Regions from separate parts of the Homo sapiens genome. Here regions 2, 3, 4, 5 and 6 are each reported to be linked to region 1. Evidence: microRNA targets listed by miRTarBase, many of them from high-throughput screens and not tested one by one. Region 1 holds a microRNA gene; each other region holds the end of a gene's coding sequence.

What was found. Region 1 holds the annotated microRNA hsa-miR-3679-3p (CUUCCCCCCAGUAAUCUUCAUC, at 1,936-1,957, opposite strand). A microRNA usually pairs through its seed, bases 2 to 8, with sites in the 3' UTR of a target mRNA and lowers its output. Matches are read on the target gene's strand: a 7mer-m8 pairs with bases 2 to 8, a 7mer-A1 pairs with bases 2 to 7 and ends in A, and an 8mer does both.
Region 2: the mRNA of UBAP2L is a reported target of hsa-miR-3679-3p. The part of its 3' UTR that is shown has no 7-base or 8-base seed match.
Region 3: the mRNA of HDHD2 is a reported target of hsa-miR-3679-3p. Seed matches in the 3' UTR shown: 8mer at 904-911.
Region 4: the mRNA of YIPF6 is a reported target of hsa-miR-3679-3p. Seed matches in the 3' UTR shown: 7mer-A1 at 1,168-1,174 and 7mer-m8 at 2,516-2,522.
Region 5: miRTarBase lists ZNF394 as a target of hsa-miR-3679-3p. The part of its 3' UTR that is shown has no 7-base or 8-base seed match.
Region 6: the mRNA of UBE2K is a reported target of hsa-miR-3679-3p. Seed matches in the 3' UTR shown: 7mer-A1 at 1,037-1,043, 7mer-A1 at 1,511-1,517, 7mer-A1 at 3,252-3,258, 8mer at 4,738-4,745 and 7mer-A1 at 4,984-4,990.

The regions. Positions count from the first base shown.
Region 1 is chr2:134,124,051-134,129,124 of GRCh38, reverse strand. MIR3679 (microRNA 3679) reads right to left here and starts at 2,000; the gene lies at 1,933-2,000. It also overlaps a transcript of MGAT5 not described here.
Region 2 is chr1:154,269,402-154,274,475 of GRCh38, reverse strand. UBAP2L (ubiquitin associated protein 2 like) reads right to left here. Exons shown (of 27, transcript NM_014847.4): 27 at 3,629-4,276. The coding sequence ends at 4,181. It overlaps HAX1 (HCLS1 associated protein X-1), which reads right to left and starts at 1,847. Exons shown (of 7, transcript NM_006118.4): 1 at 1,700-1,847; 2 at 878-1,140; 3 at 515-702. The coding sequence starts at 1,752. RefSeq lists an enhancer at 1,784-1,953 and a silencer at 2,091-2,231.
Region 3 is chr18:47,104,229-47,109,302 of GRCh38, reverse strand. HDHD2 (haloacid dehalogenase like hydrolase domain containing 2) reads left to right here. Exons shown (of 7, transcript NM_032124.5): 7 at 518-1,893. The coding sequence ends at 621. Among named protein-coding and RNA genes, the nearest start is that of HDHD2, 44 kb to the left of the region's middle.
Region 4 is chrX:68,531,411-68,536,484 of GRCh38, forward strand. YIPF6 (Yip1 domain family member 6) reads left to right here. Exons shown (of 7, transcript NM_173834.4): 7 at 471-5,074. The coding sequence ends at 589. Among named protein-coding and RNA genes, the nearest start is that of YIPF6, 35 kb to the left of the region's middle.
Region 5 is chr7:99,488,817-99,493,890 of GRCh38, forward strand. ZNF394 (zinc finger protein 394) reads right to left here. Exons shown (of 3, transcript NM_032164.4): 3 at 4,424-5,074. The coding sequence ends at 4,713. Among named protein-coding and RNA genes, the nearest start is that of ZNF394, 8.9 kb to the right of the region's middle.
Region 6 is chr4:39,777,598-39,782,671 of GRCh38, forward strand. It overlaps UBE2K (ubiquitin conjugating enzyme E2 K), which reads left to right. Exons shown (of 7, transcript NM_005339.5): 6 at 85-213; 7 at 763-5,074. The coding sequence ends at 837. Among named protein-coding and RNA genes, the nearest start is that of UBE2K, 82 kb to the left of the region's middle.

The DNA of each region.
Region 1 (5,074 bases):
TCGGCCAGTGAGACCCATAAGGGACCTCTGACCTACAGAATTCAAAGAGAATAAATGTGTGTGGCTTTAGCTGCTAAGTTTGTGGCTGTTACAGCAGCAATAGAAGTAATCTTGTAGTATTTCTATTAGAGACTGACAGTGAGGAAATAGAACAGTCACACTTGAAACCACTGAACTAGGAGGAAGAAACTCGGAAACTTAAAGAGTATTAACCAGACATGGCATCAAAAAATGGAAAGCTGTCCAGACACGGTGGCTCACAACTGTGAGCACTAAGAGAGACTAAGGCATTTTGAGAGACTAAGGCAGTAGGATCGCTTGAGGCCAGGACTTCGAGACCAGCTTGAGCAACATAGTAAGACTCGTGTCTCTCCAAAAACTAAAATTTTTTTTAAAAATTTAGCCAGGCGTGGTGACACATGCCTGTAGCCCTAGCTACTCAAGAAGCTGAGGCAAGAGAATCACTTCAGCCCAGGAGTTGGAGGTTACAGTGAGCTATGATTGCACCACTGCACTCTAGCCTGGGTGACAGAGAAAGACCCTGTCTCTAAAAAAAAAAGAACTAATAAAACTTGAAAGTTGTATTTGATTCTGCTTACAGAAATAGAGAAAAGGCACTATCATAGAATAAGCAACTCATTATCATGAAAAACACTTTACAGGAAGAACAATAAAATCTTAATACACAGTATTACCAAGGATCCCCTACCTATACTACTTAACAAGCTGGTACTAGGGGAAAGGCCATAGTAACAAAATCCTTTCACAGAAACTTTCTGCAGACTTCCTTTAACTGATGGCTACTCCAAACCTGCAGCTCTCTGATCACTCCCTCTTTCTTCTTTCTCTCTCTCTCTTTCTTTTCTTTTTCTTTTCTTTCATTCTCTCCTTCTCTTTCTCTCTTTTTTTTTTTTCTTTGTAGAGGCAGGAGTCTTGCTTTGTTGCTCAGGCTGGTCTCAAACTCCTGGGCTCAAGCAATCCTTCCATCTCAGCCTCTGAGAGTGCTGGGATTACAGGCATGAGCCACTGCACCCAGCCTCCACTTTTTCTTAAGATAACATTGACAATAAGGTAATAAGCCCTAGTGGTGTGTGGACACACACACTCACATTCAGAGTCCCAATTTGTTGACCTGCATGAGACCATAAACTGTGCTAAGAGGAAAAAAAAAATGTCCACAGACTGATTTTAAAAGATGAACTCTGAAAGAGCATAATGACCAAACGGAACCTCAAAATCAGGAACACACCTAGGAATCTTTTTAAGGATAGACTAAAGAAACTAAAGTAGCTGAGTGTGCAGAACCCAGCCACGCAGGCACACTAGTAGAACCCTCCAAGTGTGGGAGGGGCTAAGTGATGCACCACTTTTCAGATGAGAAATCAGAATCACTAACCACAGAATCGGCCCACATGAAGACAGCCAGCTAAGTGCAGAAGCCTCACCTGCCACGGTCGGAGTTCACTCACGATGCCATGCTGCCTGGACAGCTCATCTCGTGACTCCAGCACGCCAGGCCTGGAGCTTCCAGCCTGTACCCATGAGAGCTCCATGACACTCCTTTCTTTATTGGACCTACATGTTTCTTTTTTTGTTTTGGGGGGGTTGGAACAAGCCTGGGGGGGGGGGAAACCTTTTCCTTGAAGGAGCTCACTGGACATAAGAATTGCAAAGGAGGAATGGTGAACCTCTAAAAGTTGATCGTATTTACCCAGGAGAATTACATTTGTGTGTAATGTACAGTGAAGACTGCCCAATAACAATGTCATCTTTAAACCCACCAAGCATAATAGCTAAAAATCAAATAAAGGAAGAATGTTAACATTCTTAGTCACAGAGACTAGAACTTTTTTACAGAGGGAAGGCAATCAAGATGAACAGAGGGGCTTGAAGCTGTGTTTGCAAAGGTCTTACACAGGACTGGGGACACCGCATGATGAAGATTACTGGGGGGAAGGGAATAGAGGGAAACTCCCCTTCCCTGCCATATCCTCACCACGTGGGGCCTCTAACTAGGTGCTCTAAAAAATTACAGGAAAGGGGACGAAGGAAGTATACCAAACAAATACTAAGAAAGGTGCCAAAGGAAAACAGAGAAATCACACAGAGCATGAGGCAGAGATGGTACTTTCTCTTTGCATCCAAGAAAGAATCGGTCATTCAGAAAACTCCTCACCGGCATGGATGCTTGTAAATAACAAACTGGAGGTGAAAATAAGATGGTTTAAAAAAAAAAAAAGCAGCTGCAAGAAGACTGATACCAAACTTCCTTATGTTGAAAGGTAGTAGTTACACACTGAATGTGTAGACAGAATTTGGCCCTGCTTGTGGCAGTGTGTAAACACCTAGCCACGTCCCCAGGGCACTGTGCGAGGAACCACAGAAGGCTATGAGCCTGGTCATCTTCTCTACTCTTTGAATCTCAATTTCCCAAGGGAAAAAATAGCTTCACTAAAGGAAAGCAGGTTATTTCAGGGCTGAAAGTAAGGACCAAGGTTTTTTATTTCTAAACATACAAAGATAAACATCCCCAAAGAGAGTAACAATAAAGGGCTGATTCTTCTTAGTTAAGCTTTTCGGCTGCCTGCTAAAGAGAGTCTACTGGCCAGGGCAAAAACAACCTGAATGTGTTCTCAACCTTCTTTTTAATTTAATAAGGGAATTTCATTTAATTTATGTTACAAGCCTTTTGCCACATGTATAGAATTAAGCAACATTAGGAACTGAACGGATCTTTGGAGCGCATTCAATCCCCTCTTACTTCTCAACCTAACAGCTGAGGCCCAAAGTGGTCACATGGGCTGAATTAGTATGTTCATCTACATTTCCCTTTATCACTGAACTTAACTCTTCTGGGTGTGCATTGACCAGGCTTAGACTTTAAACTCCTTGGGTAGCCAGTGACTATTTATTTGGCAGAAGCATTCCGAATCAGGAACAGGTGAGGGCAGGAAAGGAAACGGGTGCTCACTGCTATGTCCAATGGGAAGATTCCACAAAGTATGGCGATCTTGGGTTCAGAAAAGCATTTTGTGTGGCCTCTGCTCTCTTTCTAGGACTCCGCAGACACTGCGGGAATGTCTTCACAGGCACCGATTATCAGAAATGTTAAGGAATGGTCCTGATACCTCTTCCAGGTCACTCCTCACCTACCCCATGCTCCTAAAGAAAGGAAATCAATGCTGAGAGGAGCCAGGAGCCCTAAAACACAGAGAATTAATAAGAGTGAAATGTAAAATCCAGCCCAGACTGGATTCTTATCATGTCAAACTTAAAAGGTGACATGAGAAAGGGAACCCCTCATTCCAAAGGATATACGTCACTTAGATTCTCCCAGCTGGGGATGGTAGGAGGGAACTGGGCCACACCAACCTGCTCCCTACCACATTCCAAGGTGAAGCTGGGTGTGAGCACACAGTGGGCTCCAGTGAGGAACAGATGCCCAGTGGCCATCAATTCTCTTCCTGTATCATTGCTATAAACAAAGCAGGCAGGCACCCGTTATCAACTGTTACCAATTGTTCCTGTGGGACCACAGAGGAGATGTGAGGTCCAGCTTTGCCACTGCTGCCTGCTGGTGAGACTTTGAGAAAGTCCCTCCACCTCTCTGCACCTCGGTGACCTCAGCTAGAAAGAGGAGGGCCCTCCCTGCAGTGCCCCTGGGTATCTATGAAGCCCTCTCGGCTTAGGTTGGAAAGAAGGTGCTGGCTAGTACAGGGCATACTCACCAGCCTTAACCACTACTCACAGCCCAACCCACACTGGCTCTGGATCTAGACCACCTGGCTTCAAATCCTTGCTCTGCCACTGAGTAGCTGTTTGTAACCTTAGCTAGATTTCCTGACCTCATGATGTTATGGTCTCTCCATGTATAAACTTGGAATAACAACAGAATCTACCTCATTGTTGAGTGAAATACCTGTAGTACAAAAGAAGCATTTGCAATAATGCCAATCGGAGAAGGTGGATTTTTTTCATCGCCATCATTCCTATTTTCTTGTCTACCCTTTCTTGATGTTTCTCCACCAAGACATATAATAAAATCTCTACGATGATCACCAACATAACACACTCCCATGAGGGGACCCAGACATGGAAAAGACCCAAAACTAATAGAGTGGAAGACTTTTCTGTGTAGGATATTTATAATAATAATTTTTAAAAAACATTTTACCAGCATGACAGGACTTATAAGAAGTCTGTGCACCGAACTACAACTTTAAAGCGTGAAGTTCAAACAGGAGTGGGTGGGTGGCACATGTTCCCTCAAGGGCCAGCCACAAAAATCACAAAGGGATGCAAATAAGTGAGGCTGTTATTATTCTAGGGATAACCTTGAAGTGCTGACATTTTAAAAAGTAAACCTATTGCAAGCACCAGTAGTTAACTCTTACTAGTAACAGAAGTACTTGGGTGTAACTCACTCCTGAGTTCACTTTGTCAGGAAATAGAGTGGAGAAATATTCCTTAGCCATTGCAGGGAGCCACCTGAGCAAGGGTCAAGGTCCAGCAGGCATTAATGCCAGCCTGGCAGTGAAGGTGACAAAGAGAGAGTGCTAGTTTACAAGACAAACTGCTCCCACCAAACCAAGCCACAGTAGCTTATAACCCTTGCCTGTCCTGATTTTTAAGACTGGGCAGAGTCCCGAGAGGAAAGCCCTGTTCCCATTCCAGAAGATTGTATGTTTAGACAAGAGAACTGTGGGATTTTGAACAAATAAAGTGATTCCTCCAACCCCTCCCATGCACACACATAGCCCTGCAGATATGACAAAGTCAGGGAAGGATGCACTTAATTGTGGCAATGAAAAAAATAAATACAACAGTCCAAATGGGCAAACACACAGCTCGAGTCCAAACTCCTCTAGCTGAGAACGTGGTTACAGTGCTAAGGCTCCTGGGACCCACCTTGGCAGCTTTCCAAGAGCTATTAGTTTGTATTAACACACAGTAAGAGAAGGTCTGCTAAATTAAAAGTGAGATAATTTAGGAGGACATCTTTATACCCAGCACCAGCCCAGTGCACAGCACATGGCAGATGCTGGAAAAATGCTCATCAGCAGCCAGCATCAGT
Region 2 (5,074 bases), not on the chromosome of region 1:
CAGGAGCTCAAAAGCAGCCTGGCCAACACGGTGAAACGCCATCTCTACTAAAAACACAAAAATTAGCTGGGCGTTTGGCAGGCGACTGTAATCCCAGCTACTCAGGAGGCTGAGGCAGGAGAATCACTTGAACCTGGGAATTGGAGGTTGCAGTGAGCTGAGATTGTGCCACGGCACTACAGCCTGGGCAACAGAGCAAGGCTGGGTCTCAAACAATTTTTGAGATGGAGTCTCCACCTCCTGGGTTCAACCAATTCTCCTGCCTCAGCCTCCTGAGTAGCTGGCATTACAGGCACCTGCCACCATGCCCGGCTAATTTTTTGTATTTTTAGTAGACACGGGGTTTCACCATGTTGACCAGGCTGGTCTCCAACTCCTGACCTCTGGTGATCTGCCCACCTCGGCCTCCCAAAGTGCTGGGATTACAGGCGTGAGCCACCGCACCTAGCCAGTCTTTGCACTTTATTAGTGGTCTCTCACAAGCTCTCACTTCAGGACCAGATGGGATACTCACCCTATGAAATGGCCTCTGGGAGCCCCAGTCTGGTGCTGGTTGGGGGGATTCACTTCTTGCATCACTCTCCAAGACCCCCCCAAAGATCCTGGGCTGGTGACTATCTGGATACTTAAGCATTGAGTCCCGAAGTGTCTGTCCCTCCCGTAGTCTCTCACCAGGTGTCTCTGACTCAGGACCTGGAAGTTCTGCAGAAAGGTGGCAGGTGTTTGCTGGGATGGGAAAGGACTTGGGCTCTATTAATCTCTCTGAAATCATCAGTCTTCTCACACTTCCCATCCCCCAGCTACTCCCTGCAGGCTCTTTATTTCACCCACCAACCCACCAGAAACCACAGGTTGCCCCTTAGGGAAAGCCACACACCAGGAGGATGGGAAGGCAAGGTCCAGGCCCCCATATCGCTGAAGATGCTATTGAAATCTCGTACTAGGTCATCAAAGCCGAAGTTATCGTGGAAACGTATCCCTCCTCCTGGGCTGAAGCTGAAGCCGAAGCCAAATTCCTCAGGGGGGTGCTGAGGACTATGGAACCTTGGGTTCCCACGGCCCCATGAGCCCCCTTCTTCTTCTTCTTCCTCATCATCATCTTCATCTCGAGTCATCCCTCCAAAAAAGGGATCTCTGTGGCTGAGAGTGGAGGCAGATTGGCCACCAATATTTCAGCACTATTTAAGCCATTAAATCAACTCATGGGTGGCAAAGTGGGACAAGAGCAAGGGGTCTGGGAAGCTAGGGAGAGGGTCGGAGGACTGGCTGCCACATCAAAACATTAATACAATGGCTGACAGTTCTTTTTTTTTTTTTTTTTTTTTAATCAAAGTCAGACCTCAGCTCGCAGCTCCCTTCATACACCTTCCCCCAGTTTTTCTTCAGTGTGCCCCAGTCCCTCCTCTCTCTCCCAAGGTCCTGCTCACTTGCTCACTGTCTTATTCCCCAGACCCTCACGGTCTTCCCCGCCCGGGTCCCTGTTGCATCACCCCAGGTTGGAGAAAGGCTTAGTTTGCTGTTTCTCCTCTTAATGACCGCCTTGGTTACTGTGGCGGGGTGAGTGTTCAATGTTGCGACTTCTGTCCTCTCTGCAGGAGTTGAAGGAGTGGGACAGAGGATGTTTTTCCAAAAATAAGACGTAGGGGTCAAGCTCCCCTCAGACGACCCCCACCCTTGTCCGAGCCGGACCTACTCTCACCTCCGAGGTCCAGGAAAGCCGAAAAAGCCCCGGAAGAGATCAAAGAGGCTCATTCCCGTACTGGGACGCGAACCTTTGAACCCCTCCAGTGGTCCATTCGCAGACGGGGGAAACCTGCGCAGCCCTGTGAGAAATTGAGCGAGGCGTCAGCCCACGCTACCGGAAAGCAAGCCCGCGATCCTGACACTGTCGTAAACGACGGTAAGCCGGACGTGAAATGGAGGCGGGACCGAAGGTCTTCCTCAAATTTGAAAGGCTTTATCTTTACCCCACCTTTCAGAGACCAGTTTCCGTGACGGGAGTGGGCGTGACGCACTTTCAGTTTCCTATGACCGCCTTCCTCCTAAATCTGTTCTTCTTTCTGCAGACCAACTCAGTACGAAAAGCGATTTCGAGGGTTTGACTCTGGATGGCACCCGGATAAAGCCGCCAGAGGGCAGCCCAGCCGCACAAATGGACCGGCTTGAGGGCGTCCCTCAACCACCCCACCCGCGGGGCTGGCCAGCCTCACAGCAGAAGCCACCTCGCTCCTTACTCGGGCGTTCTTTTTGACTGACCTGGGCGATGTCTGCTGTTAGAGGGATGAACAAAATGCTTTTCCAAGCTCCTTCTAGTATTGAATTTCCCAGAGAAGAGATCAAGACATAAGAGACGCATGGACTTAACTTCCTCCACCTCTCTAGCTACTAGGGAGTTTGTTATAACTATATAGAATTCTTTTTTCTAAGCAGGCTCTGCAACCAGCAAGACAAAGGATTTTTAAGAAAGCAAGGGAAGGGAAGCTAGTTGAGTCCTGAGAAGGAACAAATTGGGGGTTATAAAGAAATATCCCTTTGGTATCTTTTTTTTTTTTTTTTTTTTTTTTTTTTTGAGACAGAGTTTTCTCTCATGTTTCCCAGGCTGGAGTGCAGTGGCACCATGTCGGCTCACTGCAACCTTCGCCTCCCAGGTTCTCTCCTGTCTCAGCCTCCCGAGTAGCTGGGATTACAGTCATGCGCCTCCACGCCCGGCTACTTTTGTATTTTTTGTAGAAACGGGGTTTCACCATGTTGACCAGGCTGGTCTCGAACTCCTGACCTAAGGTGATCCGCCCAACCCAGCCTCCCAAAGCGCCTGTCCTCATTCCTTTTTAAAAGTGTTTTGTTCAAAACCTCTCCGAGACCTGTCTCTCCCTGTACCCCATCCCCAAGCCAGACCTTGCTCTAGATTCTTTTTCAAAGAATTGGGTATAGCTATGTCACAGAGAAGCATCCAAGAAGCCACTACTACAGTAGTCCATTCCTAGGGGGAATGGGCCCCAAGGTTTTGTTTTTTTATTTCGTTTTTGGGGTACAGGTGGTGTTTGGTTACATGGATGAGTTCTTTAGTGATTTCTGCGACTTTAGCGCACCCATCACCCGAGCAGTGTACACTGTACCCAATATGTAGTCTTTCATCCCTCACCCCACTCCAAGATTTAGTTCTGCCAGACGATACATGTTGCCTTCACTTCTTTTTAGTTTATTTGCCTGGACCCATCTAAGTCATACTTAAAACTCTATAAAGCATTTTTTTTCTTTGAAATGGTCTCAGCTCCTTCTTGATCCTCTCCATTTTCCACCCAATCTCCTCTATCCCTCTCCCTTTACTGCCTGAAATCGGCTGTAGATGTAGCAGTTTCTGGAGGAAATGAAGATTTGTGGTGGTTCTTTCCAGTCACCAGGTTGTGAAAGTCTTAGGGGTGAGGGGAAGGAAATCCCCTCAAGGACAAGATACTACTACCACATTAAGGTCAGGAGTTCTTAAAGGGCGAAGATTTCATTTTATTCCACTGCCTTCAGGGGCCTGCTAGAGGAGGCCCAGTTGGTACAGTAATACTTATTCACCAAGCTGGTCATCGACGAAATTGAGGATGTCCTAGACGGAGCAAGAATAGGCAGAGGCTGAAGGTAGAGGTTTTCTTTTTATATATACAAGACACATTAATCCATTAAATTTGAGGACACAGTACAAAAAAAAAAAAAAAACAAAAAAAAAACCACTTCAACTAATTCATCTGACAATGCTGTTCATATTCATGACGCCATTTTTTTGTTTGTTGTTGTTGTTGTTTTCCTAATAATAAAGAAGGAGACTTAGGGCTGTTGGGCTGATATATGTTTGGGGGTCCCACCTCCCCGCCTCATCCGTACACCACCAGGGTGAACAGGAGGAAGCAAAGGAAGTGCAGGGCCCATAGCAAAGTTTCATAATCTTGAATGCAAGAGGGGAGAAGGAATGGAAGGGGGAAAAAAAAGGAGAAAATACAAATCCTATAATACATACAACAGGGTGGGGATGGTATAGGAATGGGACAGACATGAAGCTGAGGCATGGGGTGGGCCGCTGGGGGTGGGGGGCAGCGGAAACCCCCCACATTCCTTTCTCTTTGATGCTGTTTCCATAGTTTCCAGGCTGAGAAGCCCTCTCAGAAGATGGGACCGGGAGAAGAGGGTCAGGGCCTCAGTTGGCCCCCCAGCTGTAGCTGTTGTAGGCAGACTTGTTGGTCTGGGGCTTCTGCGGGATGGAGCTGGTCTGGCTACGTTGCCCGCTGCCCGTCTGCAGGGGAATGGGAGGATCATGAGGAGGAAAAAGGTGTCTAGTTAGTGGTACAAATTTGTAACATCTTCAGGTGGAGATGTGCAAACTGTCTTGCTCTCCCATTCCCCTCACTACTATTAGAACCATAGAAAATTTGGTCTGCATAGCTGCTAAAGCCCCTTTCTTACAAGCAGGAAGGCATTTTTGACTTTTAAATAGGGAAAAGATGAAGAGGGCAAGATACCTTTAGAGACAAGGTAGTGAGTGAGTTCTACTCATTTTCAATTCTACATTCTCACACTACCCCCTCTCTCCCCTGCTCTTGGAGATGGGTGATCACAAGGCAATTTCATTTCCATTGATCCCCATTAATGCCTCAATTTGGAAAGCTGTCTTTGAGGAAGGAAGCCCTTATTCTAGCTCCAGCCACCTATAATGGAGCTCTCAAGAGGCCACTTGCATCGCCCCACAGATCCCCACCCCTACCACACATCACATCTGTGAGCCCATTTCAGGCAGGTATGAGAGGCAGTCTGAGGCCTCAGGCTCCAGATGCTGCCCCAAGAATCTTTTCCATTCTGGTAACCGAATGTTTTCCACAGCTGGGGAAGGGTACAAAGATAAAGAGGGTGTTGGGGAGGGGAGGAGGAGAGAGGAAGGGGAGGCCAGAGAGCTCAGCAAGGTGTTTGTGTTTGTGTATCCCGATTTGTGACCGCGCAGTCTTTTCAAGTTCCCTGAGGCTGTGAAGGTGAAATGGGGACTGAAAAGGAGTGGGTTCAAGCATATGATCATTCAATTTCATTACCTGCTCCTCCT
Region 3 (5,074 bases), not on the chromosome of region 1:
CCCCTGGCCTGCGAGCATCCATCACTCTTTTCCTCCCCAACCCAGGGCGTTCTCATCTGCTGGGCTCCCGGGCTGCCTGGATCCCTGCGTGGCAGCAGCACATCCTGTTCCCAGTTGCCTTTGGGAGCGGATGAGTCCTCTGCCCTCTGGGGTCTGGGCTTCCATTTTAAAGCATTAATTTAATCACCAATCTATCTTTAGAGCTGAGGGTAGGGGAAAGAAAATGATTTCATCAGCTGTGAACATGTGAAGGGAATCTTAGCTGTCAGACGATCCAGTACCTGTGGCTGTCCATTGTGAATGACCAGAGGGCCTGGGGAAAGGCTGAATGTGACATTTCTTTGAATTGCCTCATTTACATCCTGAAGCCTCAATAAAAGGTGATTTGGGAGATGTGCAGCCCCTGATTCTGTCTTAACTGTAAGGGTGGTGCTGTGATGACCCAGGTGCTCATGGGGTATGATTAATTTAGCATTCTGGTGGCAGCCTGTGTTTACTGGCTTTACTTTCATTTCAGGGAAATATCGAGCATCAGATGAAGAAAAAATTAATCCACCTCCTTACTTAACTTGTGAGAGTTTCCCTCATGCTGTGGACCACATTCTGCAGCACCTATTGTGAAGCAGTGTGTGCATCTGAAGCAACTTGAAATGCAGCTTCTTATTGTCTGGAATGAATCCCTTACCAACTCAGTGCCAGCATCGGTAGACACCAGTCAGTGCTGATCGCTTTTTAACCCTCTTTTGTTGTGCATTAATTAGAAAGAAAGGTATTGAATTGCGGCTAGCCAGTAAGCCTTGCTAATCTCTTTTATTTTGTAACTGAAGATGAGACCCAAAGAAAGGGAAAGCTGAGATTTTGTGCCATTCCTTTTAAAATATTCATCAGGTTAGGTGGGGCTGTGGGGGAAAAGCTACTACAGGGAAGAGTGTTCTCTGCTGTCTCTTCACTGGAAAACAGGGAGGGGGGATTTCAGACTGTGAAGAAAGTTGAATGGTGGTTTTTAAATTATAAAGTAATGTATTAAAAGGTGCATTAGGCTGTAGTTCTAATATTGAGTTCAACTGTGAAATCCATCAGATGTGCCAAATGGAGAAGACAGAAAGCAACAAAGTGAATTGTTCTTTAGCCCAAGTGGTACAGTGAATTTGCTTTAACAGATGTTGAAAACTAAATTTTCTACTGTATTCCCAGCACGGGTGACTTCTTTTTCTCTTCATTAGCCAGAGATGACTAATTTAAATTTAGAACCAGATTTTAATTTAAATTAATATTTCCATTAATAACCTATTCATTGCAGATACCTATTATACTGTGTAACAGTTGTTTTGGAAATTTTATGTAAAATTAAAACTATCAGTATTTTACAGATGTTTTAATTAGACATTGTTATTAACAGGAACAGTGCAGAAACTAGAATCAAGCCTTATAATATCTTATAGACCATGCATTTTTGAAGTTAGTGTCCACTAGGGTCCTATTAACTGTACATTTGCAAGATTTCATTATTTTTGCCTCTGACACTATGGGAAAAATTTTTTAGAAGCTATTGGGACAGATTCAAGCTTTTATGCACTTGGTTACTACAGCTGTAAAATGAAATCTCGTCTTGTAGCATGGATTATTCTTCTCATGTTAAACCCACCAAAATAAAGGGGACTAAATAGGTAATGATTTTCCTAGTGCATTTGCATACTGTGATAATCCTGGGCCTTGCAATAGTTCTACAGGGCTCTTGGGCATTGAATTATTAGGATGTAATTGTACATCATTGTAGTGTTCACCTTATTGAAGCTCACTCTGATGTTAATGAGCTTCGGGTTTTGATGCTTGTTTAGAGATCAGCAGTCTTGGATGGGAGGGAACAAAGCTAAATAAATGTTAGTTTGGTGAGCACTGTGTTTTTGTTTTTGCAAATGCCTCATCTTAGTACTTCTATATCCCAGAGTGCAAAAGACAGATGTGATATGACTACCACCCCAAATCAGAAGGATGAGCGGAGTGGCTAAGAGTATACTCTGGATCCTGGTAACACAAAATTAGCTCTCTGGCCTTGGGCAAGTCACCTCACCTCTCATGCCTTCTTTCCTTATCTATAAAATGGGGATAATGATAGTGCCCACCACATACGGTTGGTGTGAGCATTACGTGCATGAACTATATATTAAGTACTTAGAATATCATTGGGCAAATGATGAGTGCTGTGCGTTTGTGATGATGATGATGATGAAGCAGGACTCTCCACATTTAACAGTCTGAAAAAGGTTGGTAGAATTTATCTTTACATTTATCTCAGTGGAGAAAGTCTTCCTAAGGATTAAAAAAAAGGATATTCTTTACTACATTTAGACTTCCTCAGAGCAAAGCTGCACAGAGAGAGAGCTCAGCCTGTGGGTAGAGAGCTCTGCGTGGTGCCTGGTGGGTGGGCTGCCTTCAATTTTGCCCTGTTGCTTGGGCACCTGGGTCAGTGATGCCTTGGCCCAAGCATTATCAAGTGTTTGCTAGTTGCTGTGCACTGAGTGCCCTGATTATGGTGGGAAATAAGCATATTAAGAAAAAGATTTTGCCTCAAGGATCCTTTTCAGTTGAAGAGCTAAGGAAAAGAATACACACAGAGGCGTTCCTGTCCTCTGATGTCGTCCCTGACTTCAGGATGGGGCAAGGTGTCCCCTCCTTCATGTCCGTGTGGCACTTGAAGAGTGTACTTATGTCTTCACATGCTCTTCTCCCCACTAGACAGGGCTGCATCTCATTTTTTTAAATTTTAATTTTGCTACCCAGTTAAATTTGAGTTTCATCATTCTTTCCTATATCTGCTGCAACACAGGTAAGCACTCAAATGGTTACTGAACCAATAAAAACTAAATATCTTAGGAATGTAATGCTAGAAAGCATAGCTTTGAGTGGGCAGGAGAAAATGTTCATTTTAGACTTGTTGTCTTAAAGTTGCCCATAGGGGAGGCCCCATTAAATAAACACTTGGAAGTAATGGATCAGATGCTCTGGAGACAGGTTAGAGCTAAAGCCAAGAAGGGAACATCATTGATGGGTCAGGAAGTGAAGAGGGTAAAAGTCTCCTGAGCATGATGGACTCAGCCGGGAGAAATGGCTTCTCTCCATTCTTCCATTCCACTTAATCCCTGTGAGCCCTGAAAATCTTAGTTTGAGATCTTTAACAAGCATTATATAGGACTTGCTAACTGACCGGCCCACAGTAAGGTTCATGAGAATAACTAAAAATCTTACTTATAAACATTCCAATCCATGTTAGTCTCAGCTGGTTAGTCTGCCTTGGGCCTCATGGAGGAAGTTTAGTAACTGAAGTTTCTTAGGCTTCATTTTCTGGCTGTCCCATTTAAAGGGCTATCTGGTATTAATTTCAAGGATGGTGTTTGCATCAGTTTTATTATAATCCTGTCCTGGGCCAGAAAAGGGACCATGTGACACCTTGGGACTGGAAAGGTTATTAGAAAACATCCATTGTCGGGAGTTGAGTGTCCCACATCTGCTGTGAGCCAGGAGTGTGGAGCAGGGCAGAGCTCCAGTCCAGGGGAAACAGATTCAACCCCCTCCACCCACACCTCCAGAGTCAGCCACAGGTTGCAGTAGCTCTGCCTCCCGTACGTTCTGCATCTGTGAGAGCTAATCGTAATGGCTAGGAAAGGAAAAGGAGGATAACCTACCTCATTCTAAGTGACAATTCCATCAAACTTTACCTTTAGCCGTGATGTCAGAAATTCCCATGGAATGATAATATATGTCACTTCACACATAATCCCACATTTTAGAACTTACAGTAGTGTGTTGGACAGAGAAGTTAAAAACACCTACACTGATTGTGTTCAATTGGTTTTTGGATCAATGTGTGTTCATGTAGGATAAAACTGAAGTCCTTGGGCACCTATAATAGAGAATTTTTTTAAATGACACTAACCTATTGCATTAAAACACTGCCTCAAGCAGTAGAATCCCTTTGTGATGTTAGCAGTTGTTTGCAGAGGGCTGTGTTTGCCTTATCATGTTTATTTGACATAAGTCACAAAAGCTTTTTTCAGCCTAAATGCACAAGGCTTTTGGTGACTTCCGTATTATACCAGCCATCAAGGCCTCCTGTCCCAAATCATGTTGCTATCTTTAAGGAGCAGTAACGAGGGTGCCAAAGTACCAGAAATCATTTGTTTCAAACAGTTTGAATGTTTTTTCCAGTGCTTTTCTTTATGTCATACACAGCTCAACTCCTGTTTGTTTCACTAGCTGATCTTCCTGAAAAAATCAGATATTTAATGTTCTCTGTGAGTAAAGCATAAGGGAGATGGAGAGAATACAGCTGTGGCTCCTAAGATGTGTGTCTTTTAGTTGGGAAATTAACACATATAAAAATTTATAACAATACCAAGGACTCTGACATGTTCAGAATGGTTGTGTAAGTCCTCTAAGATCATGAGCAGTGAGCAAAATGCATGAGAGTAGTAGTCACAGACAGTGCTCAGATAGCCTTTGGCCTACGCCATTTTAAATAATGTTTCATTCAATGGCAGTGAAAAAAAGTACTCCAGGCATGGAGCTTACATTTGGAGGGAGCAAACAAATGATGAAACACGTGCATTTATACACAGCTACCGAATACAGTGAGAGATTGATGAATGATGAAGAAGAAGGCCAACAGGAATGCGGTTACTTTAGGTAAGTATGGTCTGCCAAGGAAGGCTTTTAAAGGTGAGTGGGAGCAGGCTGTGGAAATTCTACAGGCATATAGTTAACCTTGATTGCCAACATCTGAACACCAGGAGATTCTAATGCAAATCAACCACTGGGTTTTCTAGGAAGATGGGAAGAACTGGCTTATGTTAGATCCAAATTTCCATGTCCAATTGGAGCAGAGTCATTACTGTGTCAGAGAGTCCCTGGCCCTCTCTAGCTCACCACCGTCTCCACCTCTGCTTTGCCTAACATCCATCTTACTCCTAATTTGCCACTACATTCCATGTTTCTGTAGGTCTTTGGGCTGTGACCTCTGCTTTGGAAGAAAATACATTAAACTTTCCTCCAACAGCTATCAGGCCAATCTCCTATG
Region 4 (5,074 bases), not on the chromosome of region 1:
CACTGTGCCTGGTCAGAAGGGTGATTCTTGATGAGTAAAACGATGATTAGGTTTTTCTTAGATGGACAAGGGAGGGATGGCGTTTAAAAGAGCTGACAATTTCAGAAGCACAGTTAGCTCAAAAAGCAGAGCAGCACGAGGCCGTTTACCATAGGAACAAATAACCTTACACATCTTTGTAAGCCTTTTCAGTACAGTTCAATAACTTTTCCAGAAAAGGGTAAAAAACTCCTTTTAGAAAGATTTCCATCCAAAATGGTTTAGTACTTGAAATAAGTCCTCGGCCTCGGCTCTCTGAAAAACTATGTTGCAGAATGCCTTTATCTCTGAGGATCACCAGTATAACTAAACTTTTAGTGTAATTCTGTGTTCTAGATGATGCCAAGCTCATGAATGTTTAGTAAATGTTAATAGTTGTGACAATATTACTGTATTAAACATTCCTTTTTGTTTTGTCTTGTTTTGTTTAGCCTCCACAGCTTTCCTTGCTGATAGCCAGCCTCCAAACCGCAGAGCCCTAGCTGTTTATCCTGTTTTCCTGTTTTACTTTGTCATCAGTTGGATGATTCTCACCTTTACTCCTCAGTAAATCAGGAATGGGAAATTAAAAACCAGTGAATTGAAAGCACATCTGAAAGATGCAATTCACCATGGAGCTTTGTCTCTGGCCCTTATTTGTCTAATTTTGGAGGTATTTGATAACTGAGTAGGTGAGGAGATTAAAAGGGAGCCATATAGCACTGTCACCCCTTATTTGAGGAACTGATGTTTGAAAGGCTGTTCTTTTCTCTCTTAATGTCATTTCTTTAAAAATACATGTGCATACTACACACAGTATATAATGCCTCCTTAAGGCATGATGGAGTCACCGTGGTCCATTTGGGTGACAACCAGTGACTTGGGAAGCACATAGATACATCTTACAAGTTGAATAGAGTTGATAACTATTTTCAGTTTTGAGAATACCAGTTCAGGTGCAGCTCTTAAACACATTGCCTTATGACTATTAGAATATGCCTCTCTTTTCATAAATAAAAATACATGGTCTATATCCATTTTCTTTTATTTCTCTCTCTTAAGCTTAAAAAGGCAATGAGAGAGGTTAGGAGTGGGTTCATACACGGAGAATGAGAAAACATGCATTAACCAATATTCAGATTTTGATCAGGGGAAATTCTACACTTGTTGCAAAAAAAAAAAAAAAAAAAGCAAAGGGCCTCTAAAGAATCAGCCTCTTTGGTCCCTTTGTGCTGTCACCTTTTTGCCATGTTTAACAGCATCTTGGTTGGCACTCTAGTCTTAATCTTGCTCCTTAACTTTGAATATGCAGTCTAAAATGTCAGTAGTCAACATGTAATTTTCCTTTGAAATTCTGAATATTCCAGTGCTGGAACTTATCCAAAAAGAAGACCTCAGAAACTTAGATTGGTAGATCTCTAGTGCATATTATCATGTGGGCACCTTCTCTTAGGGTGGAATGAGGCAGTCTGGATGCAGCATAGTTAAAAGGAGCTGTTTAATATTCTCTGTAGTCTGGCCTCTTAACTAGAAAGTAAAGCTAAATCAGAAGCCTGTATTTAACCATGTGAACAGGGAGGGATTTAGTGTTCTGATGGCTGATTAATAGAACAGCTAGATACTTAGAGCATGACGTGGGATGGGATGAGTTTACAGCTGCTGCCTTTTCATGGTGAGCTTAGCAGTTTTCTCATTAGATGTGTTTTTTTGGGTTGGGGAATAGCAATTTATTTTATTGATTTTAGACTTTATCAAGCTAATTAGCTCCCCTTTAGATAAGTACATGTTGCACATGTGCACCTACTTGTAATCTCAGATATTTATGCACACAAGTGTGAAGGTTTTTCAGGGAGCAGAGCATCTGGGACAGGCTGATTCTGAGCTAAACAGGGCTCCTTTAAGGCAATATGAACTGTTGCCTTCTATAAATTGCACATTGAGGAACTCTAATAGACAAAGATTAGGTGTCAGGCAGAAAACACTCATTGTAAATATACTATTAGTTGATAAACATAGGACTTTCTTATTCCCCAGTTTTTCTTTATCATATAATTTAAATATTTATTCATTTTGTATTTAAAGACTACCTACACATAGATATATGATTCCAAAGTCATACTTTCTCCATCCCCACATTAGCCAAGTGAATACAGGGCCAAATGGGTTCTTGGAATGATAATAACAAAGCATTACAAAGTGGGTCCCCTTGGTTCCAGCCTTGTCCAGAGTTTTTGGTTATATATTTCTATTTATTACAATTTACCTTTTAAATTGTAAAATAAACCTTTGTGTGGACAGAGCCAATGTTTCAATCTTGAATGAGTAAAGAAAATACTTTGGAACTGATCCTCATTTTGAAATTGGTTCTAAATTATTATCCATTTCCAATGTCTGAAATTCTCTTACTTCCTGCTAAAACTCTCTTTCTGCCAAAGTTGTTTCGTAATCTGTCTCAATGACTATAATGTAAAATTAAAGAAGTAACCATGCTTCTCAAGGGGGAATTAAAAGTGTTTATTGAATTTTACTCAGGCTAATTGTTTGGTCAGAAATTCCTAAGGCCACAGCTTTGGGGGGTTCGTGTAGATGTACATGGTGGGTGGGTTATAAATATTGGGACTTAAGGCAGCTTGTTCTATGTATTTATCTTTGCTCTTGGGTGACTTAGGGAATGATTTTATTTGATTTAACCTTCTTTCTGTTTGCCCCGAGAATACTCGCCAGTGGCGCTTGCAGTTGTAGCATTTACCCCAAGATAACTTTGCCTACGAAATATTTCGCTTTTATTATTTTCACATCATTCTAGTATATGGACTTTGGAAACAAAAGACATTGTTCTATTTATAGCATTCTTTTTTTTTTTTAGTAGCGGTATTTCCATTTACAAAATATAGTAACTCTTGATTACTGAAAATGTCAAATCCTAGAAAACGTAGCATGCCTATACATGATGTTAACATCATTCTCGAACAGTTGTTGGCCGAAGATTCATTTGATGAATCCAATTTTTTTGAAATAGACAATTCTGATGTTCTCTTTAGAAATAACTCAGTTTTTATCTTTTTTCACATTGAAAATCAGTTAGATTTGCTTAAGCCTCAAAGAGAATGTTTATGTAAATTAGCGCTGGCAATTTTTTTTTTTCTAAACAGGAAAAGGGTTAAATGAAGGTTGATAAAATGGATGTTCAATTGTCTTTCTGAAAGTGAGTGGCTTGAAGGGATGAATAAATATTTTCTTAATATATTCAAAAAAGTGCATTGCTTTCTGTGATGGAAGTTAAGACCTAAATGTCTGGAAGTTGTAACCCTCAACACAGCTTTTCCTGATTTGCTGCAAAGGCACATAGCTGATTATAGAAGTGAAGACGGCAAGGACGGGGACTCCAACAAAGGAAACCCTGTTGCAGGATTTGGGAACTTTCATGCTTCAGATGAAATTCAGGCATGTGAGCATCACTGCAGAATGTGGTGCATCATTGCCATCATGAGTAATCACTTGCTGCTCCTACTTCTGAGACCAAGACTCTTTTGTCATATTCTTTAGCAATAGGACGGGTAAAGACTGGATTTAATTGCTGTTCAGAGTATAAAAACTCAATTGATTCCAACATATCTGAATGTGCAGTAAAGTCTTAAAAGTCAACCGTTAATCATTAAGTCTTTTGCCTCTAAAGTCTTTTGCCTCTGAAGAGGTTTATTACATGAGTTGATTTTCATATTTTCATTTTGGTGGGGTTTTCCTGTTGTTGGGCAAGGTGGGGTCACAGGACATGGGACTAGTAAGCATTTTACTGTTTACTATATTTGTCTTTTTATAAACAGTATCTCCCAAAATGTGATTAGAAGGCTACCAAGCCTGTATTTGGACATTTAATTGTGTGCTTTATATAATGTAACTACTAACAGTATTTGGACTGCCTGTTCATTCCTGGAGACAAAAATGAAAATCTGTCAGTTCAAGTTCTTGGGTAACATCAAGTCATTAGAATTTATCTAAAGCTTATCATGATTTGATAAGACATCCATTGCATGCAGCTGTTTTAGCTCAGTGCAAAACACTGAAATTGTGATTCTTAGACTGTTTCTGAGACATTTGGATGGAAATAAATGTATAAATGTTAATTCATGTATATAAATTAGAAACACTTTTCTAGATTCTGTAGGCTTTTGTTAAAAATAGAGAATTTCTTGGGGTTTACTTAGGCCACAGAATGGCCAAATAATAATAATGACAATGATATTACTAATAATAATAGCTAACCTTTATTTGGCACTTACTGTGTGCCAGGCACTATTCTATTTTTTTAAGAATTTTTAAAATAACAGCTTTATTGAAATACACTTTACCATAAACTTCACCTTTTTATTTTTTATTTTTATGAGACAGGGACTCACCCAGGCTGGAGTGCAGTGGAGCAGTCATGGCACACTGTAGCCTCGACCTCCCTGGGCTCAAGCAATCCTCCCACTTCAGTGTCCCGAGTAGTTGGGACTACAGGCATGCGTCACTACACCTAATTGGCTAATTTTTGTAGTTTTTGTAGAGATAGGGTTTCGCCATGTTGCCTAGGCTGGTCTTGAATTCCTGGGCTCAAGCGATCCACCTGCTTTGGCCTCCCAAAACAGTGGGATTGCAGGCGTGAGCCACCATGCCTGGCTGAAATTCACCTTTTAAGATGTACAATTCAGTGGTTTTTAGTATATTCACACACAAAATTGCACAACTATCACTAACATCTAATTTTAGATCATTTTGTAACTTCACCAAGAAACCCCAGGTCTGTCAGCAGTCAGTTCCATTCCCCCTTCATCCCAGCCTCTGGCAACCACTAATCTGCTTTCTGTCACTATTGATTTGGCCAGACACTATTCTTCTGTGCTTCTCATGCATCTCCTGTAATACCAGTGCTACAATTCTCATTTTATGTGGAAAATTGAGGCACTGAGAGGTTAAGTAAATTGCCCACGGTCACACAGTAATTTGATTTACAACAGTAATAACACATTAGATGAGAACACAGTAGGACACAATTTTGAATTCCATTTTTATGTAC
Region 5 (5,074 bases), not on the chromosome of region 1:
GCTTGGGAGGCTGAGGTAGGAGAATCACCTACCTCAACCGGGAGGCAGAGGTTGCAGTGAGCTGAGATTGCGCCACTGCACTCCAGCCTGGGCGACAGACCAAGACTCCATCTCAAAAAAAAAAAAAAAAAAAAGTTGCCCATAATCTAAAATGAGTATGTTAGATTCTGATAAGAGTTGTAAGTCAGCCCGGCGCAGTGGCTCACGCCTGTAATCCCAGCACTTTGGGAGGCTGAGGCGAGTGGATCACGAGGTCAGGAGTTTGAGACCAGCCTGGCCAATATGGTGAAACCCCATCTCTACTAAAAAATACAAAAATTAGCCGAGCATGGTGGTGCGCGCCTGTAGTCCCAGCTACCCAGGAGGCTGAGGCAGGAGAATCGCTTGAACCTGGGAGGTAGAGGTTGCAGTGAGCTGAGATCATGCCACTGCACTCCAGCCTCGGTGACAGAGTAAGACTCCATCTCAAAAAAGAAAAAAAAAAAAAAAGAGTTGTAAGTCAATATTTGTAATAGGTGCCGTGGGCCCTGCCGAAGTCCCTCTGGCCTTACACCTTCTGTGGGCTTCATCTGACTGTGTCTGCACCTTGTGGCCTGTGGGGTAATAACACATTCTGGGAGCAGCTGTCAACCAATCATCGATGGGAATTTGATAAACACCAAATTCTCCATCTCCCCATGTGTGGAAAACTCTGAAGCATGTGTTTTAGTTTCCAGAGGTTCCCCATGAATTGCACACAGGCACTCACCCAAGGTAGATACCTCATTGGGTGACTTCCCTTCTGTCTCTTCCACCTTCCCTAATAGTGTTGCAACCTCTCCCCAACAAATAAACTACTTGTATTCAAAAAGTGTCAATTATGTTCTCTGAGAAGCCATATCCCTTCTGTTTCCACAATTATTCTAAGCACATTCTGACATTCAGTTTAAATAGGTTGAGCTGAGTGTATTCTCCCTAGAGCTCAACAATATAAGAGATCCATTTAAATTATTTGGATATCCTAAACATCATCCTATGTCTGTATTAAAAATTGCTCTAATTTGCCGGGCGTGGTGGTGGGCACCTATAATTCCAGCTACTCAGGAGGCTGAGACAGGAGAATTGCTTGAACCCGGGAGGTGGAGGTTGCAGGGAGCCAAGATTGCACCACTGCACTCCAGCCTGGGCGACAGAGTGAGACCCCGTGTCAAAAAAAACAAACAAATATTGCTCTCAGGCCAGGTGCACTGCGTCATGCCTGTAATCCCCAACACTTTGGGATGCTGAGGCAGGTGGATCACTTCAACCCAGGAGTTTGAGACCAGCCTGGCCAACATGGCAAAACCTCATCTTTTTTTTTTTTTTTTTTTTTTTTGAGATGGCGAGTCTCGCTCTGTTTTCCAGGCTGGAGTGCAGCGGTGAGATCTCAGCTCACTGCAACCTCCGCCTCCTGGGTTCAAGCGATTCTCCTGCATCAGCCTCCTGAGTAGCTGGGACTACAGGTGCCTGTCAGCATGCCCAGCTAATTTTTGTATTTTCAGTAGAGATGGGGTTTCGTTCGCCATGTTGGCCAGGCTGGTCTTGAATGCCTGACCTCGTGATCTGCCAGCCTTGGCCTCCCAGTGCTGGGCTTACAGGCGTGAACCACTGTGCCCAGCCTCTCTCATACTTTTAAAGTACAAAAATTAGCTGGGTGTGGTGGTTGTATGCCTGTAGTCCCAGCTGCTTGGGAGGCTGAGGTGGAAGGATCGCTTAAGCCCAGGAAGTTGAGGCTGCAAGTGAGCCAAGATCACACCACTGCACTCCAGACTGGGCGACAAAGTGAGACCTTTTTTTTTTTTTTTTTAAAAAAAAAGATAGTTTGTATTTACGATTCTCTCCAATGACCAGTTCAGACATTCAGGCACTTGTCACTCAGATTAATCCTCATGTTTAAAGAAGGTACAAACAGGAGAGAACTGTTTCTAATTCACTGAGCCACAGGGAACTGCCAAATCTAGAGAGACTCAGCCATAGAAAATGAACAGTCACATCCAAAGCGCAGCCATCCTGAGATGGCTTCAAACTTAGAGGGAGGTGTAGGTGCTGTCCAGGCCAGACACTCTTCAGTTTCCAAACAGTTCCTAGAGGAAGAGAAGCCACTATCACCCAGAAGCCACCTACACCCAGACTAGACCCGGGGCTCTGCCCTGTGTTTGTCAGGGGCCACTAGTGCCCTGACTGCTGTTTCCTGATGATATTCCTTCAAGCAGAGGCCTCTATTACACGTGCCCCAGCTCACCTACATCAGGGAGAGAGTGGTCTCCTGACCGTGATGGTGGGAGCCCCTAGTGGAGCTGAGCAGACACTCTCTTCCCTTCATTTTCACAGGACCTGGAAAGGACAACCACACTTGCTTTACTGGAGATGATTCTTATGTTCTATTTTATTCACTTCTGCAAGAAATACTCAAATTTTGTATAATAAGCCTTGTGATATCATGATAAATATGTATCTGGTCTTCATCCTCAATGACTAGCAGAGAGCTCCCCAAACCTTGGAGAATTCCTGAGGGATAAGGGTGCTAAGAGCATCTTTTCTTATCATATTTGGTCTTTGACACTTGTTCCTGACACAGAGCTGTTAAACCCATTGGAATTTCCTTAGTGATGCATGTCTTTGTTCTAATAAGGCAACTCTTGGATTTCCGATGGGTTCAGCTTGGGGGCTAACTGGAAAGACCAAGGCATGATTAGAAACTTGGAAGCTGAGGCGGGCGGACCACGAGGTCAGGAGATAGACACCATCTTGGCCAACATGGTGAAACCCTGTCTCTACTACACTACAAAAAATCAGCCGGGTGTGGTGGCGAGTGCCTGTGGTCTCAGCTACTCGGGAGGCTGAAGCAGGGGAATTGCTTGAACCTGGGAGGCGGAGGTTGCAGTGAGCCGATATCATGCCACTGCACTCCAGCCTGGGCGACAGAGAATCTGTCTCAAAAAAAAAAAAAAAAAAAAAAGCCAGGCACAGTGGCTCCAGCCTGTAATCCCAGCACTTTGGGAGGCCAAGGCGGGCGGATCATGAGGTCAGGAGATCCAGACCATCCTGGCTAACACAGTGAAACCCCATCTCTACTAAAAATACAAAAAATTAGCAAGGCATGGTGGGGGTGCATGTAGTCCCAGCTACTCAGGAGGCTGAGGCAGAAGAATGGCATGAACCCGGGAGGTGGAGTTTGTAGTGAGCCGAGATTGCGCCACTGCACTCCAGCCTGGGCGACAGAGCGAGACTCCGTCTCAAGAAAAAAAAAAAAAAAAAAAGAAATCAGCAAGTCATAAAACTGAACTCCTAGGCTCCTAGAATGGGAAAGAAAGAGGGACTATGCAAAATTAGGTTTTCTGGAAAGTGAAAAATAGAGTGCTTCTTTTGAGTACTGAGCTTTACCAGATCTTTTGGGGATTATGAAGTAGTTGAAACCCTCTCTACAATCTAAGGCCAAAGGCAAATTTTAAATGACTAAAATACATTCTTAGGCAAGTATTAATAATTGTAGTGAGCAAGATTTGGTTCAAAAGTGAATAAAAAGGCCGGGCATGGTGGCTCGTGTGTAATCCCAGCACTTTGGGAGGCTGAGGTGGGCGGACTGCCTGAGCTTAGGAGTTCACCACCAGCCTAGGCAACACAGTGAAACCCCATCTCTACTAAAATACAAAAAATTAGCTGGGCATGGCATGGTGCACCTGTAGTCCCAAGTACTTGGAAGGCTGAGGCAGGAGAATTGCTTGAATCCAGGAGGTGGAGGTTGCAGTGAGCCAAGATCATGCCACTACACTCCAGCCTGGGTGACAGAGCGAGACTCCATCTCAAAAAAAAAAAAAAAAAAAAAGTAAATAAAGGTAGGCTGGGTGTGGTGGCTTGTGTCTGTAATTCCAGCACTTTGGGAAGCTGAGGCAGGAGGATTCCTTGAGCCCAGGAGGTTGAGACCAGCCTGGGCAACATAGCAAGACCCTATCTCTTAAAAAAAAAAAAAAGCTGGGTGTGGTGGTGTGTGCCTGTGGTCCCAGCTACTCAGGAGGTTAAGGCAAGAGGATCACTTGAGCCCAGGAGGTTGAGGCCACAGTGAACCACGATCACACCACTGGGCTCCCGCTGGAGGGCTACGACGAGACCCAGTCTCAAAAATAATACATAAAGGTAGAGCGCAGATAACAAGGACAGAACCCCGTTACATGTCAGCCTGGCTCTTATCATCAGAAGTCTCTTACCTGGCATCAGCTCACATTTCAGAAGGCCCCCTACTTCCTCATTCCTCACTCACTGAAACTATCAGTCTGTAATGAGGCTCAGGACAGATTGAACCTATCTTGTAGGAGATACTCAAGGAAGATCCATAATTGACTGATATACTCCAAATGGCAAGGAATGTGGTTCTGGACAAGAAAAGAAACAGGCCAAGTCACATAGAAACATATCAAAATGACAGCACTTTATTTCTTTTTTGAGATGGAGTCTCGCTCTGTTGCCCAGGCTGGAGTGCAGTGGCATGATCTCAGCTCACTGCAACTTCCGCCTCCTGGGTTCAAGTGATTCTCCTACCTCAGCCTCCCGAATAGCTGGGCTTACAGGCATGCACCACCATGCCCGGCTCATTTTTGTATTTTTAGTAGAGACAGGATTTTACCATGTTGGCCAGGCTGGTTTCAAACTCCTGATCTCAAATGATCTGCCTGCCTTGGCCTCCCAAAGTGCTGGGATTATAGGCGTGAGCCACCACGCCCAGCCGACAGCACTTTATTTTGATGAATTCTTTGGTGTCGGATAAGGTGTGTACTTTGTCTAAATCTTTCCCCACATTCAAGACATTTGTAAGGCTTTTCCCCAGTGTGAATTCTCTGGTGTTTAATGAGGGTTGCACTCTGATTGAAGCGTTTCCCACAGACGGAACATCCATAGGGCTTCTCCCCAGTGTGGATTCTGTGGTGTTTAAAGAGGTCAGAGCGCTGTTTGAAGCTCTTCTCGCATTCTTCACACTTATAGGGTCTTTCCCCTTTATGTAGTCTCTGATGTCTAAAAAGGTTGGAAATATGACAGGTTTCCCCGCATTCCTCACATTTAA
Region 6 (5,074 bases), not on the chromosome of region 1:
GTAGGATTGTAGGCGATTAAGAGCTGAAATATATCAAATATTATAACTGTAATGTCATGTCAATCAATTTTTCCCCCCATATAGTACAAACAAAATCCCGAAATGTTCAAACAGACAGCTCGACTTTGGGCACATGTGTATGCTGGAGCACCAGTTTCTAGTCCAGAATACACCAAAAAAATAGAAAACCTATGTGCTATGGGCTTTGATAGGGTAAGTACATAAGGGCATGTTGATTTTGATATATTGATTGATTTTAAATTATTGCAAATTCTTGGCTGACAAAAGTGGTTTAGAAAATAAGAGAAATTCGCAGCCTGGGCAACATGGCGAAACCCATCTCTACAAAAATTAGCTGGACATGGTAGTGAGTGCCTGTAATTCCAGCTACTCTGAAGGCTGAGGTGAGAGAATCCCTTGGGCCCAGGAGGTCGAGGCTGCAGTGAGCGATAGTCATGCCACTGCACTCCAGCCTTGGTGATAGAGCAAGACCCTGTCTCAAAAAAAAAAAAAAAAAAAAAAAAAAGGAAAATAAGAGAAAATCTAGTTTTGGTAAACATATTTTCTGTTTTCAAAGTCAGTGATTTTTTTATTTTTACTAATTACTGTCATTGATTTTAGAAGCTTTCCATGCACTGCAAATGTAAATCAACTTACAGAAAAGAAACAAGGTGTTAATTCCCAGTATAAAGAGTGAATGATTCAGTATTGTTTAAATGTTTCCTTGAGATTTAATTTCCTGTCCCCTTTTCTTCTCTACAGAATGCAGTAATAGTGGCCTTGTCTTCAAAATCATGGGATGTAGAGACTGCAACAGAATTGCTTCTGAGTAACTGAGGCATAGAGAGCTGCTGATATAGTCAAGCTTGCCTCTTCTTGAGGAGCACCAACATCTGTTATTTTTAGGATTCTGCATAGATTTCTTTTAAACTGGCATTCTTGCCTAATGATGTTATCTAGGCACCATTGGAGACTGAAAAAAAAAAATCCCTGCTCTGTAAATAAAGCTAATTAAACGTCTGTGTAAATTTAAAAAGGGGAAATACTTTAATTTTTTTTCTTAATAGTGTAAAAATTCCCTGAGCTAAGCTAAAACCATGGAAGAAACATGCTACTTTAGTGTTTAGCAGTGTACCAAGACTAGCAAGAGTTTGCTTCAGGATTTTGTTGAATAATTAAGATAATATTTTGAGTGTGTCAGGGCCATTCAAATTGTTGGTGTTGCATCACAGCTACCTTAACTGTTTTTAACATGGATCCTCTGTGCCTGTGAATTTACTTGCATGCTTGTACTTGACTTCTTAGGATGGGTAGCTGAAAAGACCACCATTTTAAGCATTTGAGAATTCTTAAATATGAAATTTATTCAGAATTGAAGATGGTGACCTATTCAGAGCCTTTTTGTCCTTGTCAACAGACTGGGACAGTGTCTGATTCCCCCTTCACCCCCCCCACCCCCGCCTTGCCACACACAGCTAATATTCTAATGGTAAATTTCTCTGTATCAGGTGGGGAAATGTGCTGAAGGACAGTATGTATCCCTTGCTTCATTTTTAGGTCGTAGGTTTGGAATGTCTTGTCCCAGTTCTTCAAACACTCTTAAATTTTTCTTAAGTAATGTAAAAATGGAACTGCCAATTTTATTTCTCTTGCAAAAATAGTAAATACTTGATGTTACATTATTCCCAGGTTTAATGAAAGAACCCAACTTAGTTTTTCAGTGAATTTGACACCTATTTTTTAGTGATGAAATTTTTCTTTGAGAACTGGCAAGGATGCAGTCAGCTGTTTGCAGTTTTTAGCCTGATTTTGGGGTCTATAGAGATTGCTTTATTGGATACTTCAAGTCATTCTTGCTTGCACTTCCCCTATTGACACATGAAAGCTGTGTTGGTGTTTTATTGTACATACTTCAGATGCACATAGGAATAGAAGTGTGTTATAAATCTAGCTTTCTTTATGATGTTTCTGATAATACGAGAATTGAAAACTTTACCTTCTCTTGTACATAGTCAGACTATTTGTATTAAATTTACATTTCATTCTAAGTTCAAAAGTTTGAAAATTATTAGTTTTGCAAGATCACACACTAATGTAACCATTTTATGAAGGTTGAAGTGGATTTATGCAGGCAGTTCTATATATAGAAATACAATTCTTTTTAAATTTTTAGGACCAATACAAAATAACAAAAATGTAATGGAATCAGACTGAATTAAAGTAAGGCTGTATATTGAAAGTCATATTATAAAAGGTTTGCTTTCTTTAAGTGTTATTTATCTTAAATTATAATCGTTAAATGTTTGGAAGATAATTTTTGAATCATAACGTCAGCATAACTTCATTTGACTTCTCAATAATCTTGATACTAGAAGCAATAAAAGAACCATTATTAAATATATTGTAATGTTAAAGATGTGAAGGTTCTTCCAAAAATTTGTAAGGCTTTCCTAATTAACAGTAAACTCTTATAGCTGATATTATTACATACTAAACACAAGTTGCTGTTTTTTCCCCATATGTTTGCTTACGCATGTCTTTATACAATCACCTCTTTTTATTGCTGTAGTTTATTTTCTAAAGATGCCAAAGGAAACAAGATTTTTCTTTATTTATTTTAAATACCTGAAACCTCGTACTTTATATTTTGAAGTAAGGTGGGATTGTGTGAAAATGTGGATGGTTTTTCTCCAGTGTTGGTTAGAACTACTTTTTTTAAGTGGAGGGCAACTTGGTAGTATTAGTAGAATTTGGGTTTAAAAATATCAGACACATCTACCCAGTTTATTTTTTGCCTGTATTATCAGGGTATATTTAATTGTCCTGTGGTTAAACAAAGGTGAGAGAGCTCAGAGGTTTCTAAAGGTCAAGCATTTTACATATATACATACATACATGCTCTTGGAGGCAGCTATATCCTGCTTTGATTTTTATGCACATGAGCCCTATAGGGTTATATACTCATCTAACTACACTTCAGCATCCCCAGTGCCCAAGAAATTGGAAAGTACAATATTTGGTTTGAGACATTCTTCATAAAAGATTCTTTATTATAAAAATTTACCTCATTTACATTTAATGTGATGATCTTTTTTTTCCTTTCTGGTATATTTCCCACTGTACTGTTTGGTTTTTGTTATTCTCTTGTCTGTGGGTAGATTTAGTTACCCAAACATAGAAACTAAAGCAATTGCTTTTTTCCTCTGGTCTTAAATATGTTTGGACAAAAAGACACTAAAAGGTCAGGCCTAGGGGAAAAGTACCCTGGTGGAAATTATTTTTGTAATTCTTAATATTTTTGAGTTGGCTCCGTTTGTCAGTTTTAAAAGCCTCAAAAATTATGTTAAAAAAAAAATCCAGTGAAATCCCATTTAGGGCAGGCCGATTTGTTAGAAGTCACTGATGCTCCAGTAGGCTTTTGTTATAATCAGGCCTGTTTCCTGAGTATGTGCCTCTTTTAAAAGAAGAAATAATTAGCTGTATAGTATTTCAGTACTGATGAATGAATGAATGAATGAATGGCAGTTAGTGGACCCAAATAAGTATTCAGTGGTATATAAATATTTGAGGAACTAGGTACTGAATTAGGTGCTCTGAGTTGGCACCCCGAAATGTTTGGAATCACGACTATGATTTACTTAAACACGTAACACATTCAAGGATATATAAATGGAGTCTAAGTATTTTGCTTTTGAAGAGAATAATCTATGAAATGGAAGACTTGATTTTTTTTTTCATTTTTTAGAAGTAATACACATTTATGATTGTTGGCACATAAAACTATGCAAAATAATTCTTTTTAAGTATCTGTAAGAAAGAATTGGCAGTTTAAACGGATTTTGCTTATTTATGCACTACAGAATGCAGCATACTGTATTACTGTTGAGGCTGCTTAATAAGTTTACCAATGTGAAAAGCAGATCTTGGGTATAAGTGTATGCCTGATTTGAGCTTTTAAAACTGTGCAGTAGGTGTATGGTAATGTTTTACAATCCTATGTAGCAAAATAGGAAATTATGAATTTTTGTTGTTATTGTTTTAAAGATTTAAGATGGATTGGGGTAGGGAACAGCTGGAGCCAGGTATACCTTCTAGTATGTAGAGGGAAACAATGTTTAGATAGGAAAAAGGAAGCCGTCTGTTTACAGTTAACTTTATTTCATGGACTTCTACAAAATGTTGTATTAATCACTTTTTCTAGTTCAAGGAATTTCAATTCCAGGGTACAAACCATTGATTTAAAAATTACGTTTCCATTCTTTTTAGTATCAGTTTAAAGTAAATGCTTACCATCAGCCAGTTGCTGTCACTGGGAAGAAGGCAACTTGAAGTATTTACTGATAAAATAGCCTTTATTCCCAAGTGTGACTTTTCTTCAGTGTCTACATATTATGTCACACGTTCTATTTGCACTGCTGCAATATAGATCAAAGATCTTGTGGCATAGGGGTAGGGGAGTGTTAGTATCTCCCTTGTCCCATTTGTTCTGTTACTGCTTCATTGGACTGATACACCCTCATGAACTTGCAATCACCTAAATGGAAGTCTTGAATGTGTCACCTTTTGCTTGGTTATTTCAACCATGCTGCTATATATAATCAGGTGTGGCACAGTTTGTCAGTTTGATTATAGGTGTGAGTGGATAGAAATCATTACACTGTGCTGTTAACGATCCTTGTCTGCTTGCTGTTACCTACTTTTTACAGGCATCATAATAAAAGCTAGACTATTTCTTTGGGGGGAAAGAGACTTATTTAATGTAATTTAAAAAACTTTTCCAATAGAAAATGAAATATTATTGAAAATAATATCTATTTTTTAGCTTTCAGCAATTGATGGTGCTTTGTTGTGGTGTCTGCTGGAAGTCTACTGCCATTATAGGGAACCTTGCTTGTTAGCTTCTCTAGATCTCTATTCTAAACAATCTGTTAGTGATGATAAATTCTGTAGGAGGGTCTATTCTGAGCCGTTAACTTCCTGTAAGGGGAAAATGGGTGGGTTACCAGAAATACCATTGAAGCAGGGTGGGCTGTGGGGTGGAAGGTTGGGGTATTTGTCTTGAGAATTAAAAACT